2 separate regions of the Homo sapiens genome follow, and region 2 is linked to region 1. Evidence: fine-mapped expression QTL. A gene starts in region 1. The other region holds a variant in brackets. All regions are shown on one strand. Distances are between the middles of the regions. Region 1 holds the start of GMPPB (GDP-mannose pyrophosphorylase B). Region 2 overlaps IP6K1 (inositol hexakisphosphate kinase 1).

Region 1 (8,323 bases):
CTGGACACAGGGCATTACCTCTGCAGGAACAAGTACTATGGCCGTGGGCTCTCCATTGAAGGCTTCCGCAATGCCCTCTATCAATATCTGCACAATGGCCTGGACCTGCGACGTGACCTGTTTGAGCCTATCCTGAGCAAACTGCGGGGCCTGAAAGCTGTGCTGGAGCGGCAGGCCTCTTACCGCTTCTACTCCAGTTCCCTGCTTGTCATCTATGATGGCAAGGAGTGCCGGGCTGAGTCCTGCCTGGACCGCCGGTCTGAGATGCGTCTCAAGCACCTGGACATGGTGCTCCCTGAGGTGGCGTCATCCTGTGGCCCCAGCACCAGCCCCAGCAACACCAGCCCCGAGGCGGGTCCCTCCTCTCAGCCCAAGGTGGATGTCCGCATGATTGACTTTGCACACAGCACATTCAAGGGCTTCCGGGATGACCCCACCGTGCATGATGGGCCAGACAGAGGCTACGTGTTTGGCCTGGAGAACCTCATCAGCATCATGGAACAGATGCGGGACGAGAACCAGTAGGCCCTGTTCTGGGCCCCCAGAACCCCTTCCTCTCCACTGCAGGCAGGGACCATTGTTCTGAACTTGCCGTGAGGACACACAGACTTGCTTTTAAAGGGTTATATTTCTCTTTGGTGTAAACTAAAAGAAATGTTTTTAGCTGTAGCCTGGAATCCATATATATAAAGTGAAGGAGGGCAGACCACACGCCCTCTCAGCCAGGCTCCTCAGCTTTGTGGCTCTGACTGGTGTGTCCAGGCTGCCTTAGGAAGGAAGAGGTGCCCCTGGTGGGCTTGGCAGCAGGGACAGGGTGCCCTTGGACATTGGTTTCTCTTGTCTAGATCTTTGAGATCTGTGGCTGCAGGGCCCTGCTGATTGTAAGGTAAAGCCCTGGGCTGGTGCAGGGCCCCTCCACGCCCACTCTTCCCTTGTTCCCCAGAAGTAGAGGGCTCTGGGTGCCCATTTCTTGGGGGCTTTCCAGTCTTATGCTGTGGGTGTCAGCTAGCTCTTTAATAGGTGCCCTCAGGGCACCACAGGGCTGACTGCACAAAGCTGGACCCATCCTTCGGTCTGACCTTAGCATGGGGCTAGATTAATGAAGCTGGGCTGAGGCCAACTTATGGCAGAGGGCGGCGCCTGGGTTCCCCAGGCACCTGTTGGCACGTGACAGGTTGGCACCTGTCCTATTCCTGAAACAGCCTCTCTCACCAAGTTCCCTTGCCTAAGAAGGCCACTCCCTCCCACCCCACTGAAGTGGGGGATAGTCGGTGTCCTAGCAGGCCTCAGGGCCTCTGGTGGCTCTGGCCCAGACAGTATTTGCAGTTCTTGTGCTATGGGTGGGAGTCTTCTTCCTCAAGTTTCGGCAGCTGTGCTGCTGCTGGATGGGCTGCTCCTCCCAGGGCTCAAGGGCTGTGGTCCGCTCAGGGTCTCATTTCCCCAGGCCAAGTTCAAGGCAGCAGCCCTTTGTGAGGCGCTCTTGGCCCTGGGCCTGGAGGGAGAACTTTAAGCTTTTTTGCTCACAGGGACGTGGTATGGGCCCTGGGTGCAGGTGCCCACATTCTGCTAATGAGAGCTTTGTCTGATCAGTCCTGGGTCCATCAGTTTGTCCATGTGTCCGGCTGCCAGCCCGTCCCTTGGGATCCTTCCCCTGGGGTGTAGCCTTGTTCATTAGTATATACTCATTCCTTCATGCTTTCCTCAGCAGAACACTTCCACTTCTGAGGTGAGCTTTTGCCCCATGCCCTTCCTCCACAGGTGTTGCCTTTTTATAAAGACCTGATAGCAGAATAAATTGGTGTTTCCCTGTTGACCCAGCACCATTTCTGTGGGCCTAGAATATGGCCCTCAACCCTTAGAGTGGGGCAGTGAGGGCTTGAGGAGTGACCCTTCCTTTCTCATGGTTTTAGTCATTTTGGCTGCCAGCCCTTAATGGCACAGATCTGCTGCTTCTAACAGATGGCCAGGAGGTGACACCGATTTCAGCCATTGCCAAGGTTAGCACCCTCTCCTTTGAGCCTAGGGCCACACTGTTCATTGTCACTTTAGGCAAGTGCCTGTTTGGCTTTAAAGGTAAGCCTGCCAGCTGTGAGAAGCCTTGGTAACTGATGGACTCATTTCCTGGTCCTTAAAGATGCAGCCTCTTAAGGGCTCCTTGATGGATGCCATCTCTCCTAGCCCCCAGCCCTGGTGCCACTGGTGGGCAGGTTCCCATTCTTTGGGGCTGGGAGGGACAGCTTGCCTGTTTCTGGTCACAAATTACAGTCTTCTCTCCTGTACCATTCTGTGGCTTCAGCCATGGGGGCAGTAGCCCTTCATTAGTGTAGATAGTCATTCCCTGGTAGGGTGGAGGGTAAGACATAGGGTCTGGAACTGTTTGGGACCTTTTGGGGATGTCCTGTGCCTCCCAGATTCCTCGATTCTGGGAGGAGAGGCTGCCGCATTCTGCTGCTCCTCACAGCGAGCAAAGCTGCACCCACTTACATTCAGTATTTTCCTGGCACTACAAAGAGTGGGAAGGCCTGGGATTTGCTGCTGCTCCCTTAGAGCAGGGCCCCTCTTTTCAGCACTTTGGACACCTGGAGACCCAGCCCTGTTATTTAATGGTAGTGGGCAAGTGTGTGTGCATACTGTCTGCCACTGCTTTCTCCCTGCCCCATGCCAGAGAGCCCTGTCCCTGCCAGGCCCAGCCTTCTTAGCCCCAACTTGGGAACAAAGTGCAACATGGGATCATGGGTTGGGGTGCTCAGGTGAGCCCTCTCTATAGTGCTTCCCTGGGCCAAGCTGACACCAGCCCCTGAGGGTGGGGTGGGACGGGTGGTGCTTAAAAGAGGAAGGGGACCAGTGTAGCAACTTGCCAGGGACCCCACCCCTCCCTCTCTGGGCCTGTGCAGTGAGCATGGGGATTCCCATCAAGGGGCCTGGCACCTGTGCTAGTTACGTAGCCGCTGCTCACGCGCTCACTCCTGACCACATGCACGTTCCCTAGATGCAGACTGCTTTGAACTTTAAAGCTGTACAATTTGGTTATGTTTGTGCTGACTTAAAATATATTTTAATGAGGAAAAAATAATGGAGAACCCTGGGAAGGACCTGGTTCTTTTGCTTCTCGGGGAACTGTAAGCCCTCGCGTTCTGGGAATCGCTCTCTGCTGCTCTTTCCTGGAAGCTAAGCCTGTCTCCACCGCCCGAGGCCTGCGCCGGTGGCTCCCGCCGCAGTTGCGTTTGCTTTGGACCTTGCGTGCGGGGGAGGGGGTGCTCGGTCCGAGCCCGCTCCTTTCTGTACACCTAGCGCTGCCCGCCCCGCTTGTGTCTGAGGTCGTGTATGTCAAAAATAAAGCCGCTAGAAACGGAGGCGAGTCTGTCTTTGTGAAAATCCCGTGGCCCGGGAGCCTTCCCTGGTCACCCTCGGGGCGAGGCCGGGGCCGTGGGGCGGGGCCGGCGGCTGCTGGACCGCGGCGAAGCAGGGAACAAGGCCTCGCCCTTGGCGCCAGTTCCGCCTTTGGATCCGCCAATGGCCAGCTGACCCGCGGGTCCCGGCCCGGGTCTCCATGGCAGCCCGGCGTACTCGGGCGCTCATTGGCTACGTCTGTCGCAGCGCTGCGCTCCAACGTTCCGACGCCGGCGGCCGTGCCACGTACGCGGCAGCCGATTGGCCCGCGGTGGTCGCGTCACTGCCCGCGCCGGGTCCGGCCTGAGTTCGGGGCCAGCAGCCGTCTACCCGGTGTCGCGTTCTGTGTTGTGGCGGCCCTGGATCCGGCGTCAGGGCGACCGGGCGGACGAGGTGGAGCCAGAGTCTGTCAGGCGGGTTGGTGAAGGGCGCGGGGCCGGGCACGGCGTTGGGAGTGCGCGGCAGGGACCGGCCAGGCGGGCTGCAGGCACCTCAGAGCCCGGGACACCCCCTCAACGTCCGCAGGCGCGATGAAGGCACTGATCTTAGTGGGGGGCTATGGGACGCGGCTACGGCCGCTGACGCTGAGCACCCCGAAGCCACTGGTGGACTTCTGCAATAAGCCCATCTTGCTGCACCAAGTGGAGGCGCTAGCCGCGGTAAGACCCTGGGTCGGGATCAGAGTCGCGTTCGGATCTGGCGGGACTAGGGATGGCCAGCGACTAGGGGTCAGGGGCTCCCGTACCTTCTGACTGAGCCCGCCCGTCGGCCTGCGTTCTGACAGGCAGGCGTGGACCACGTGATCCTGGCCGTGAGCTACATGTCGCAGGTGCTGGAGAAGGAAATGAAGGCACAGGAGCAGAGGGTGAGGCACAGACTCTTGGCCCTTATTCTCGGTCCCCGCCCAACTTCCCATCCTGGTAGAACCTGACTGGGGGGGCCTCTTCCTTCCAGCTGGGAATCCGAATCTCCATGTCCCATGAAGAGGAGCCTTTGGGGACAGGTCAGTAGAGGCAGAAAGGTCCCTTGGGGGAGGGTTTAAGGCCAGGAAAAGGGTAAGACCCAGCCTGGAGTGGGCCTGCTGAGCCTGAATCCAGGGACTCAGACCTCCAGCAAGGTGGTGACCTGTCCCCTTCCCCCAGCTGGGCCCCTGGCGCTGGCCCGTGACCTACTCTCTGAGACTGCAGACCCTTTCTTCGTCCTCAACAGTGACGTGATCTGCGATTTCCCCTTCCAAGCCATGGTGCAGTTCCACCGGCACCATGGCCAGGAGGGCTCCATCCTGGTAAGGCGCCAGGTCTTCTCTCTCTTGACACTTTCACCCTCCATGCCCAGCCTCCCATGCCCCCTAGCCTTCATCTGCCTTCGGATGTTATGGATACAGAGCTGTGCAGTATGTATCTTTAAGCACTTGGGGCAGAGTCTCTTGAGATCTGGAACGGCATGTGTATCAAGGCTTAGGAACACTGGACTAGGTCCGAGGTCCCCTTCCTTGCATTCAGGTGACCAAGGTGGAGGAACCCTCCAAGTACGGTGTGGTGGTGTGTGAGGCTGACACAGGCCGCATTCACCGGTTCGTGGAGAAGCCACAGGTGTTTGTGTCCAATAAGATCAACGCAGGCATGTACATCCTGAGCCCTGCAGTGCTGCAGCGCATCCAGGTGTGTAGGAGACAGCTGTTGGTGGGCTGGGGTGGGGCAGGCCATCACCGCCATGACCCTGCTCACAAGCTGCCCACTCCCACAGCTGCAGCCTACGTCCATTGAGAAGGAGGTCTTCCCCATTATGGCCAAGGAGGGGCAGCTATATGCCATGGAGTTACAGGGTGAGGCAGGGAGGCCACAGGGTGGGGGTGGTCTGTGGCTGGGCTGAGGCCCCTGATGCATCCCTCCCTACAGGCTTCTGGATGGACATTGGGCAGCCCAAGGACTTCCTCACTGGCATGTGCCTCTTCCTGCAGTCACTGAGGCAGAAGCAGCCTGAGCGGCTGTGCTCAGGCCCTGGCATTGTGGGCAACGTGCTGGTGGTGAGGCCCTTGCCCAGCCCATCATTAACCCCCTCAGTCTTGGGAGACAAGTGGCCCACTTGTATTTTTCCCACCGCTCTCAGGACCCAAGTGCCCGCATCGGCCAGAACTGCAGCATTGGCCCCAATGTGAGCCTGGGACCTGGCGTGGTGGTCGAAGATGGTGTGTGTATCCGGCGGTGCACGGTGCTGCGGGATGCCCGGATCCGTTCCCATTCCTGGCTTGAGTCCTGCATTGTGGGCTGGCGCTGCCGCGTGGGTCAGTGGGTAAGCCTGTGGGCTGGGCTGGGTGGGGAGAGGGGCGGGGAGTGTGCCTGCCTCCCTGACAAGGCCTATCCTCTCCTGGAGGTACGCATGGAGAACGTGACAGTGCTGGGTGAGGACGTCATAGTTAATGATGAGCTCTACCTCAACGGAGCCAGCGTGCTGCCCCACAAGTCTATTGGCGAGTCAGTGCCAGAGCCTCGTATCATCATGTGAGGGGATGCAGTGGGGCTGGCCGAGCCCCGGTTTTCCCATCAGCAAGGGGAGTGCTGGCCTGACACATCAGAAGACCCTGGACTTGTCATTATTTGTCTGGGGGGCACTGGGTGAAGCTGAAGCTGTTGGACACCTGCCTTCTCATGTGGACATCATCTGGCAGGATCCCTGCTGGGCACACCCCACAAACCCCACTCCCTCAAGAAGGGCCAGGGCCAGGGCTGTATGGAATAATAATTTAATGCTCACTGTGGCCCTGACTGAAAGTCAAGCTCAGGCACAATTAGGGCCATGGCTGGGCTCCCACCAATGAGGATACAGGCAGGCAAGGAGGTTGGATGTGGTGGTGTGGGATACAGGAGAAGGGCAAAGGGAGCTCATAAATAGGGCCCAGCCTGGCTCTGGGTTCAAAGGTGGAGGTTCCAGGATGGCACAGGCTGTGAGGGCTAGGCAGCTGAGGAGGTAGTACTCGTATTGGCTCCCTTCTCCCAGTCCTCTACAGACACGATGGTGGTTTTGCAGAAGAAGCAGTCCTTGTTGTTCATCAGGTGCTGGTTGATACAGGCTCTACAACAGGGGAGGGGATGAGGACTGCCCTGCATGTACCTACTGCTCTCCCCACCACCAAGCTGTGGGGCCCACTTACTTGCAGGACTTGTGGCCACAGGGCTGGAACACAGCAGAGATGGGGTGGGCATAGCAGATGGGGCAGAGGTCCTCCTCACTGGTGGGCTGCAGGGAGGAGAGTGAAGGGTGGGCTGGAGTTGGATGCCTGGCTATGTGGATGTCCGTTGTGCCTGTGTAGGAGTGCACACATATTCAAGTGGCATGGACCTGTGCACCGTGTTCCCACTCACCAGGGAGGCAGCTGCTGCCTGGGCAGATGCAGAGGTCAGGTGCGCCAGCATCTGTTCCACTTGGGCCAGCTCATCGGCACTGATATAATCCGCATCTGGGGAGTGGTAGGTAGTGTCAAGTCAGAGGTAGCTGAGGATGTGATGCCTCTTGAATATTCCCAGCCTAGGACTTTGCTGTTCTTAAGGCTCCTGACCCGACCCAGCCCCAGATTTCCCTGACCTGCCCCACCAGCCCACTCACAGCTCTGCAGGGAGAAGCGCTTCCGGTCAGGGGCTGGCAGAGCAGTGCCAGGTGCTGGGGGCTCTGGCTGTCCCAGGAGATAGCATATTGAGCGTAGCTGGAAGCAGGGATCTGCCAGGAGCACTGATGTGGCTTGCTCTCTCCTAGGTAGGGGAGGGTGCAAGGGCAGTCAGAAGGCTTGGGGCCTGGCTAAAAGTCTCTCTTGGGATTGCCAATGAGGAGTGCCATGGCTCGTACATGATCACCCCCCCTGCATCCTTTCCGTCTCCCTGCTTCCCAAACCCCAAGTCCTGTATTCTAGTAAGGTGCCACACAGCCTGTTTTTTTTTTTTTTTTCTTGAGACGAGTCTCGCTCTGTTGCCCAGGCTGGAGTGCGATGGCACGATCTCGGCTCACTGCAACCTCCACCTCCCGGGTTCAAGTGATTCTCCTGCTTTAGCCTCCCGAGTAGCTGGAATTGCAGACGCCCACCACCACGCCCGGCTAATTGTTGTATTTTTAGTAGAGACAGGGTTTCACCAGGTTGGCCAGGCTGGTCTCGAATTCCTGACCTCAGGTGATCCACCTGCCTTGGCTTCCCAAAGTGCTGGGATTACAGGCGTGAGCCACCGCGCCCGGCCTGGGGTACCACTTTAAGAAGGCTCAGGCGAACCACCTTAAGATAGTGAGAGTCTGCCTGCCCCATAATATTATCAGTCCTTCAAAGTCACTTCAAATAAACACTAACAGCAGCTTGGAGACATTCTTCCAGACTCCCCCTTTTACTCCCCGAGGAAAAACGAGCGGCGGAGAGCTGCCAGCCAAAGGCTGACGGGGACTTTGGGGTTGGCCTTGCTCCCCATCTGGCGGTCATGCGGGGCCATTGGGCACAAAGGGATGTAGCCGCCCCGCCTCCTCAAACGGGAACCAATAGGAGCCCGGGCCCCGCCCCTGGGGGGAGTATTTAGGAGCCGATCAGGAACTCGCTTGGAGAGGGCTAGCGAAGCCGAAGGGAGCGCGGCTAAGAGTGCCGCACCGCCTCACAACCTGGGAACCGGAGAGTAGGGGCCGTCGGCTGGCAAGAACCCGCCGTGCCTCCTCGGCAAGGGCCATCCGGTGCCACCCATGTCGCACTAGAGCAGAAGAGGGTGAGTCCTGGAACTGCAACCTGCACAGAGCTGCTCTGTACTGTCCCTGGTGGTCGCCGCCATGACCTGGTTGGTGCTGCTGGGGACACTGCTCTGCATGCTGCGCGTTGGGTTAGGCACCCCGGACTCCGAGGGTTTCCCGCCCCGTGCGCTCCACAACTGCCCCTACAAATGTATCTGCGCTGCCGACCTGCTAAGCTGCA
Region 2 (8,323 bases), 51 kb before region 1:
GCCCAGGCTGGATTGCAGAGGCACGATCTCGGCTCACTACAACCTCTGCCTCCCAGGTTCAACTGATTTTCCTGCCTCAGCCTCCTGAGTAGCTGGGATTACAGGCACCTACCACCATGCCCAGCTAATTTTTGTATTTTTAGTAGAGACGAAGTTTCACCGTGTTGGCCAGGCTAGTCTTGACCTCCTGACCTCAAGCCATCCACCTGCCTTGGCCTCCCAAAATGCCGGGATTACAGGCATGAGCCACCACACCTTGCCAAGACCCTGCCTTTTTTTTTTTTTTGAGACCGAGTCTCACTCTTGTTGCCCAGGCTGGAGTGCAGTGGCGCGATCTCAGTTCACTGCAACCTCCACCTCCAGGGTTCAAGTGATTCTCCTGCCTCAGCCTCCCAAGTAGCTGGGATTTACAGGCATGTGCCAGCACGCTCGGCTAATTTTTGTATTTTTAGTACAGACGGGGTTTCACCATGTTGGCCAGGATGGTCTCGATCTCCTGACCTTGTGATCCACTCGCCTTGGCCTCCCAAAGTGCTGGGATTACAGGTGTGAGCCACCACACCCAGCTGAGAGACCCCGTCTTAAAAAAAAAAAGTCATTTCACTGTTAAAGAAAATCCCCTGCACACCAGAAATGGCCAGCTGATCTCTGATCTTTGACCTTTATGCTTTATCATTGTTTTTTTTGTTTGTTTGTTTGCCACAGAGTCTCGCTCTGTCGCCCAGGCTGGAGTGCGTGGCGCGATCTCAGCTCACTGCAAGCTCCGCCTCCCGGGTTCACGCCATTCTCCTGCCTTCGCCTCCCGAGTAGCTGGGACTACAGGCGCCTGCCACCACGCCCGGCTAATTTTTTTGTATTTTTAGTAGAGACAAGGTTTCACCATGTTAGCCAGGATGGTCTCGATCTCCTGACCTTGTGATCCGCCCATCTCGGCTTCCCAAAGTGCTGGGATTACAGGCGTGAGCCACCACGCCTGGCCCTTTATCATTGTTTTTAAAGAAATTTCCAACTTTATTGTGGTATAATTTTTCTTTTTTTCTTTTTTTTTTGAGATAGAGTCTCGCTCTGTCTCACAGGCTGGAGTGCAGTGGCGCAATCTCCACTCACTGTAACCTCCACCTCCCAGGTTCAAGTGATTCTCCTGCCTCAGCCTCCCGAGTAGCTGGGAGTACAGGCATGTGCCACCACGCCCGGCTAATTTTTTGTATTTTTAGTAGAGATGGGGTTTCACTGTGTTAGCCAGGATGGTTTCGATCTCTTGACCTCAGGCAATCCATCCACCTCGGCCTCCCAAGGTGTTGGGATTACAGGCATGAACCACTGCACCTGGCCCAACAGATGTCTATTTCACTTCATTGAAAAGATTTCTGTTTTTGGAGACAGAGTCTTGCTCTGTCACCCTGATTGGGGTGCAGTGGTGCCATCTTGGCTCACTGCAACCTCCGCCTCCTAGGTTCAAGTGATTTTTGTGCCTCAGCCTCCAGAGTAGCAGGGATTACAGGCATGTGCCACCACAATGGACTGATTCTTGATTTTTTTAGTAGAGATGGGGTTTTGCCATGTTGACCAGGCTTGTCTCGAACTCCTGACCTCAAGTGATCCATCCACCTTGGCCTCCCCAAGTGCTGGGATTACAGGCATGCGCCACTGTGCCCGGCCCAGTGAAAAGATGTCAGTTAGTCATAGAAGGTACTCTTATTTCCCTTTCCAGTCAACCCCAGCCTGCTTTCTTGGACACAGACAGGTGCCAATCTTTCTATCACTGTAGATTAAATTTGCGTTTCTTAGAAGTTTCACATAAATGGAATCATATTAATATACAGTCGATCCTCATTATTCACAGAGTTTGTATTTTCAAGTTTGCAGACCTGCTAAAATTTACTTGTAACCCCAAAATCAGTACTTTTGGTGCTTTTGCTATCATTTATAGATGTGCACAGAGTGACAAAAATTTTGAGTTGTGTGTTCCTAGCTGAGGTTAAACAAGGCAACATGCTGCTGCCTTCTTTTCAATTATCATACTGTAAATAAGTGTCCTTTTCTTGGTCTATTTAGTACCATGGTTTTTTGCATTTATTTGCTTTTTTTTTTTACTGAGACTGAGTCTTGCCCTGTCACCCAGGCTAGAGTGCAGTGGTGCTATCTCGGCTCACTGCAACCTCCGCCTCCCAGGTTCAAGTAATTTTCCTGCCTCAGCCTCGCGAATAGTTGGGATTACAGACATGCACCACCATGCCTGGCTAATTTTTGTATTTTTAGTAGAGATGAGGTTTCACCATGTTGTCCAGGCTGGCCTCGAGCTCCTGGCTTCAAGTGATCTGCCCATCTCGGCCTCCCAAAGTGCTGGGATTACACGCGTGTGCCACTGCACCTGTCCTGATTTACTTTTTGTTGGTGATTTTTAATGTTTATTTTCATTTTTATTTATTTTACCAGAAAATAAACACTAACTTTATTAATGTAATAGCAACAGAAAGGGTTTCCAATTTCTCAGAAGGAAAATAACATGACAATAGCGCAAGTGTTAAAAGAGTAAATGGCTACATTTCTTGTTCTGATAGCTTCCCACCATACACCAAAGGTTCTTCAAGGACAGCTGCCACCAGAGCTGCTGCAAGATCATGTTTTTCACTGGGTGTAGCTTCACAGTCAACTCCTCAAGCAGAAGACTAAAATATTATTTCTTAGAAGATCTTGGTTGAGGGAGAACATATCAATATGGAGAACAGATCTTTGCTTCTCAAATTCAAGAAAAACCATTAACTAATCTATCAATTTTTCTCCAATACAGTGTGCCAGAGTGCTCTGTGAAGAATCCTTTTCCATCCCTACCACATGTCTGGGTGAAGGGAGGGGAGGGTTGGTAAGCTGCCAGGACACTAGCAGGCACTCCTGGTGATGCTCTGGGCTCTGCTCCCTTTCTGCCGGGAGTAGCAGGCATCTTTTCTAGCCGCTGCAGCAGCTTGATGTTGTGGGGAGGAAGGGGCCACCCACCAATCACCTCTTCTTGAAGCTGCATTTTTTTGTGTTCGTAGAAGAGGTCTGTCTTAGAGCTCCCCAAATTGACAATCTTTGGGCAGCCATCTCTATCCTTCTCCTAGATGGTGCACTCCTTACAGTAATAGGCACCAGAGACCCCAGGGCCTCCACAGATCACACGGCACCCCTGCTAAGATACGTAGTTACACTCATCACATAGCACACCAGAGTGCAGGGACGCACAAAGTCACAAATCACACACTTGCTGTCACATTTTTCACACAATCTTCCAATGACAACACCAGCTGGCTTGCAGCAAAAGATCAAATTAGGATGATGTTTAGCCATAGTTCCCAATGAAGCCGGCCGCTAGAAGCCTATTTTTTTATTTTTTCGAGACTGCTTACAGGTTGTTAGCCACTGCGCCTGGCCTTGTTGGTGATTTTGATGCTTAAAATGGCCCCCAAACGTATTGAAGTGCTGCCTGGTGTTTTTAAACACAAGAAGGCTTTGATTACCTTACAAGGAATGTGTAGGGAAGTTTTGTTCAGGCATGAGTTATAATGCTGTTAACTATAGTTCAGTGTTAATGAATCAGTTATTTATATTAAATAAGGTGTTTTTAAATAGAAACATACCTAAAAGGTTTTATATTGTATGTATGTAGATCTGGAAGGTTGTATATTAATTGGTTAATGAAAATATGACTAGATCATCTTCTACTGGCTGAGAGTTTATTAAACAAAAAAAAAAAGAAATTATGACCAGAGGCCTACAGGAACTTAACCATTTATTTTGTCTAGGTGCAGTGACTCAGTATTCAATAACTCAGTGTACACAATGACTTTATAAAACATAATTACCATCAATAATGAGAATTGACTGTATAGTTTCTTGTGTCAGAGCCCTAGCTAAGTGTTCTAGACTTTAATGTCTGGGAGCCACAGACAGTGCTTTTGTTGATAAGTATTCATCCCTTAAATTCCCTCTCCCATTAAAAGTCATTTCCACAGGTCACCTATTATGCATAGCTGAATTTGTAATATTTCATTGTTTTACCATTAACTTCTTGGGCCATACTGACTTTCAGTTCTCTGAAGGCAGGAATTATTTTTGTCTTGTTAGTAATAATATACTACATGGTCTTACTCTGTAGATACTCAATATGTATTTGATCATGTAAGTACTTAAATTTTTTTTTTCTTTTTTTTTTTTTTTTTTTTTTGAGATGGAGTCTAGCTCTTTCGCCCAGGCTGGACTGCAGTGGCACTATCTCAGCTCACTGCAAGCTCCACCTCCTGGGTTCACGCCATTCTCCTGCCTCAGCTTCTCGAGTAGCTGGGACTACAGGCACCCGCCACCGCACCCGGCTAATTTTTTTTGTATTTTTAGTAGAGATGGGGTTTCACCATGTTAGCCAGGATGTTCTCGATCCTCCTAACCTCATGATCCGCCTGCCTTGGCCTCCCAAAGTGCTGGGATTACAGGCATGAGCCACTGTGCCCGGCCTGCAAATTTAAATTTAATGGTCCCTGACTAATTTGGAGACTTTATAGTTGCAATTCGGACAAAAAATTGGTTTGGTGGTGAGTATTCTGGTTTTATGTGTGTGTTGTGTGTGTGTGTGTGTGTGTGTGTGTGTGTGTGTGTGTTTTAGAGAGAGTCTTGCTAATGTTACTCATGCTGGTCTCGAATTCCTGGGCTCAAGTGATCCTGCTGCCTCAGCCTCCCATGTATACCACCATGCCTAGCTAGTGAATATTCTGAAACTTATTTATAAAGACTTATGCTCAACTTGAAGATGTTGTATGGATCAGGGTCAAGCAGCATGCTAGGCAGGATATACATAGGCTATTTTGGTTTACTGTTTTTGGTACTTTACCTGGAGACAGTGCAGCAAAAATTAAAGTGAGTTCACTAGCATAGAAAATATAATGAATATTAAAAAGCTTCTTCTCTATTTGGGAAGATGTATTATAAAATATGTGGCTATCTTTTTTATTTATTAATTTTTGAGA[C/T]GGAGTCTTGCTCTGTTGCCCAGGCTGGAGTGCAGTGGTGCGATCTCGGCTCACTGGCTCACTGCAGGCTCCGCCTCCCAGGGTCATGCCATTCTCCTGCCTCAGCCTCCTAAGTAGCTGGGACTACAGGCGCCCGCCACCACGCCCAGCTAATTTTTTGTATTTTTTAGTAGAGATGGGGTTTCACTGTGTTAGCCAGGATGGTCTCGATATCCTGACCTTGTGATCCACCCACCTCGGCCTCCCAAAGTGCTGGGATTACAGGCGTGAGCCACCGCGCCCGGCCAGTATGTGGCTATCTTACATATTTTGCAGGTGTCTCTAAAGTAAGTGCTGACCTTGGTGCCAGGGAGCCCATATTAAGTTTGAGTAATTTCATGAAGCAGAGTGTACCAGGCAGGACCACTTGGACCCTTAAGCATATTAACTTGACTGTTTACAGTATTACTTTTCATTGGTAGAATTGGGACTATATACAAAATTATTAATTGGCCAGGTGCAATGGCTCATGCCTGTAATTCCAGCACTTTGAGAGGCTGAGGCAGGAGGATCAGTTAAGCTTAGAAGTTCAAAACCAGCCTGGACAACCCAGCAAGGCCCGCTTATCTACCAAAAAATAAACAATTAGCTGGGCATGGTGGGACATGCCTAAAATTCCAGCAACTGGGGAGGCTGAGGTAGGAGGATCACTTGAGCATAGGAGTTGGAGGCTGCAGTGAGCAGTGATCATACCACTGCACTCCTGCCTGGGTGAGAGTGAGACTCTGTCTTTAAAAAAAAAAAAAAGCTCAAGAGTTCAAGACCAGCCTGGGCAACGTAGTGAGACCCTGTCTCTATGTAAAAAAAAAAAAGAATTATTAACTGTAACAGAGACTGGAGTAATGAGAAATTGGCTAGTCAGAAGTAGAGAGAGGCTGGGTGTGGTGGCTCATGCCTGTAATCCCAGCACTTTGGGAGGCTGAGATGGAAGGATCACTTGAGTCCAGGAGTTTGAGACCAGCCTGGGCAACATGGTGAAACCTTGTCTCTACAAAAAATAAAAAAATTAGCTGGGTGTGGCAGCATGTGCCTATAGTCCCAGCTACTAGAGAGGCTGAGATGGGAGGATTGCTTGAGACCAGGAGATGGAGGCTGCAGTGAATCATGATCGTGCCACTGCACTTTAGCCTGGGTAACAGAGTAAGACCCTGTCTCAAAAAAGAGAACGCTCTAGAATATAAGAAGACAATATATGTATATATAGCCTTCTATATATATATATTTTATATATTATATAGTCTTCCTATATATTATATATATAAAATATATTAAGTTAAAAAGGAAGACTATATAACATATATATTACATATATATGTGTTACACACACACACACATATATATATATATATATTTTTTTTTTTAAGGGAAAGGGTCTTGTTTTGTCACCCAGGCTGGAGTACAGTGGTGCAATTATAGCTCACTGCCACCTTGAACCCACCTTGGGCTCAAGGGATCTTCCCACCTCAGCTTCCCAAGTAGCTGGGACTACAGGTGTGCACTGCTGCACCCAGCTAATTAAAAAAATTTTCTGTAGAGGTCTTGCCATGTTGCCCAGGTTGGTCTCAAACTCTTGGGCTCAAGCGATCCTCCCTCTTTGGCCTCGCAAAGTGTTGGGATTACAGGTGTGAGCCACCACGCCTGGCCACTCTTGAGTAAGGTTTCTTTCACACAGTGTAGTGTTTTAATTTATACATGCTGTTGTCTGTATCAGTAGTTTATTTTTATTGCTATATAGTATTTCATTGCATTAACACTACAGTTTGTTTATTCTGTTGATAGATATTTGGGCTGTTTCCAGTGTTTGCCTTATGAGTAAAGCTTTTATGAACTTTTTTGCAAAGGTTTTTTGTGTGGACATACACATTCATTTCTCTTGAAGAGACTAGAATTGCTGGGTCATAGGATAGATGTATGTTTAGCTTTATAGGAAACTATAATACCTTTTCCAAAATGGTTGTACCATTTTTACACTCTCACCAGTAATGTATGAGAGTTGTGGTTGTTCCACATTTAGCAACATTAAGTGTGTTGTAGTGTGTTTTTAATTTTAGCCATTTGGGTGAAAGTATAGTGGTAACTCATTGTGGTTTTAATTTTCACTTACCTGAATGCTAATGATATTGAGCACCTTTTCCTGTACTTAATGGTCTTTGTGTATCTTCGTTTGTGAAGTATGTATTCAAATCTGTTGCCCATTTTTTTTTAAAATTGGCTTTTTTATTTTTTAAAGAAATGTATCTTTTAGAGATAGGGCCTCCCTATGTTGCCCAAGCTGGACTTGAACTTCTGGGCTCAAAGGATCCTTCTGCCTCATCCTCTCAAGTAGCTGGGACTATAGGTGTTCACCACTGTGCCTGGCAGGGTTTTTTTTTTTTTTTTTTTTTTTTGTTACTGAGTTTTAGGAAGTTTTTTTGTATTCTGGATACTATATTTTTTGTTTTTTGTTTTGTTTTTTTAGAGACAGGGTCTTGCTCTGTTGCCCAGGCTGGAGTGTAGTAGCGTGATCATAACTTAGTGTACCCTCTAACTCCTGGGCTTAAACGACCCTCCTGCCTCAGCCTCCCTAGTAGCTAGGACTACATGTGCATACTACCATGCCCAGCTTATTTTCTTTTTAAAAATTTTTTGTAGCAACGGAGGTCTCAGCATATTTGCCCAGGCTGATCCTGAACTCCTGACCTCAAGCATTCCTCTTGCCTGGGCCTCACAAGATGCTAGGAATACGGGTGTGATCAAGACTCCATCTCATAAATAAATAATCAGAGGTTTTCAATTTTGATGAAGTCCGATTTATCAATAATTTCTGTTATGGTTATTGCTTTCTGTGTTCTGTCTGAGTGTCTGAGGACACCTTGCCTACCTCTTAAGTGTTGGACATTTCTAGCAAGGCTTGAAGTCAGGTAGTGTAAATCATATAACTTTATTTTTTTTGAGACAGGGTCTGGTTCTGTCACCCAGGCTGGAGTGCAGTGGCATGATCTCCGCTCACTACACCCTCCACTTCCTGGGCTCAAGCCATTCTCCCACTTCAGCCTCCCGCGTAGCTAAGACTACAGGTGAGCTCTGCACACCTTGGCCTCCCAAAGTGCTGGTATTATAGGTATGAGCCACCATGCCCAGCCTAACTTTATTTTTTGTGTTTTCACCTACAAGCTTTCTAGTTTTAGCTTTTACATTTTGGTCTCTGAGTCATCCTAAGTTAATTTTTGTTATTGTGTGAGATTGGGGCTGGTGTTTCTTTTTCCCCCACATAGATAACTGATTGTTCCATTACTAGCAACATTTGT

Evidence for each region. PIP is the estimated chance that this variant, and not a neighbour inherited with it, causes the effect.
Region 2: its variant is fine-mapped to the expression of GMPPB in esophagus mucosa (GTEx, PIP 0.97).

Annotation. Positions count from the first base shown.
Region 1 is chr3:49,719,324-49,727,646 of GRCh38, reverse strand. GMPPB (GDP-mannose pyrophosphorylase B) reads left to right here and starts at 3,696. Exons shown (of 9, transcript NM_021971.4): 1 at 3,696-4,049; 2 at 4,175-4,255; 3 at 4,345-4,393; 4 at 4,533-4,675; 5 at 4,893-5,051; 6 at 5,137-5,215; 7 at 5,289-5,416; 8 at 5,500-5,682; 9 at 5,764-7,731. The coding sequence starts at 3,921. The coding sequence ends at 5,895. It overlaps RNF123 (ring finger protein 123), which reads right to left. Exons shown (of 39, transcript NM_022064.5): 36 at 6,994-7,136; 37 at 6,753-6,847; 38 at 6,542-6,627; 39 at 6,118-6,462. The coding sequence ends at 6,342. AMIGO3 (adhesion molecule with Ig like domain 3) reads left to right here and starts at 7,963. Exons shown (of 1, transcript NM_198722.3): 1 at 7,963-8,323. The coding sequence starts at 8,182. It overlaps IP6K1 (inositol hexakisphosphate kinase 1), which reads left to right. Exons shown (of 6, transcript NM_153273.4): 6 at 1-3,353. The coding sequence ends at 525. RefSeq lists silencers at 3,203-3,652, 6,427-6,604 and enhancers at 4,293-4,392, 7,599-7,828, 8,190-8,323.
Region 2 is chr3:49,770,289-49,778,611 of GRCh38, reverse strand. All of the region lies in intron 1 of IP6K1 (inositol hexakisphosphate kinase 1), which reads left to right. It also overlaps the pseudogene PHF5AP3. Among named protein-coding and RNA genes, the nearest start is that of IP6K1, 12 kb to the left of the region's middle. The variant C/T (reference allele first, on the strand shown) is at 4,998.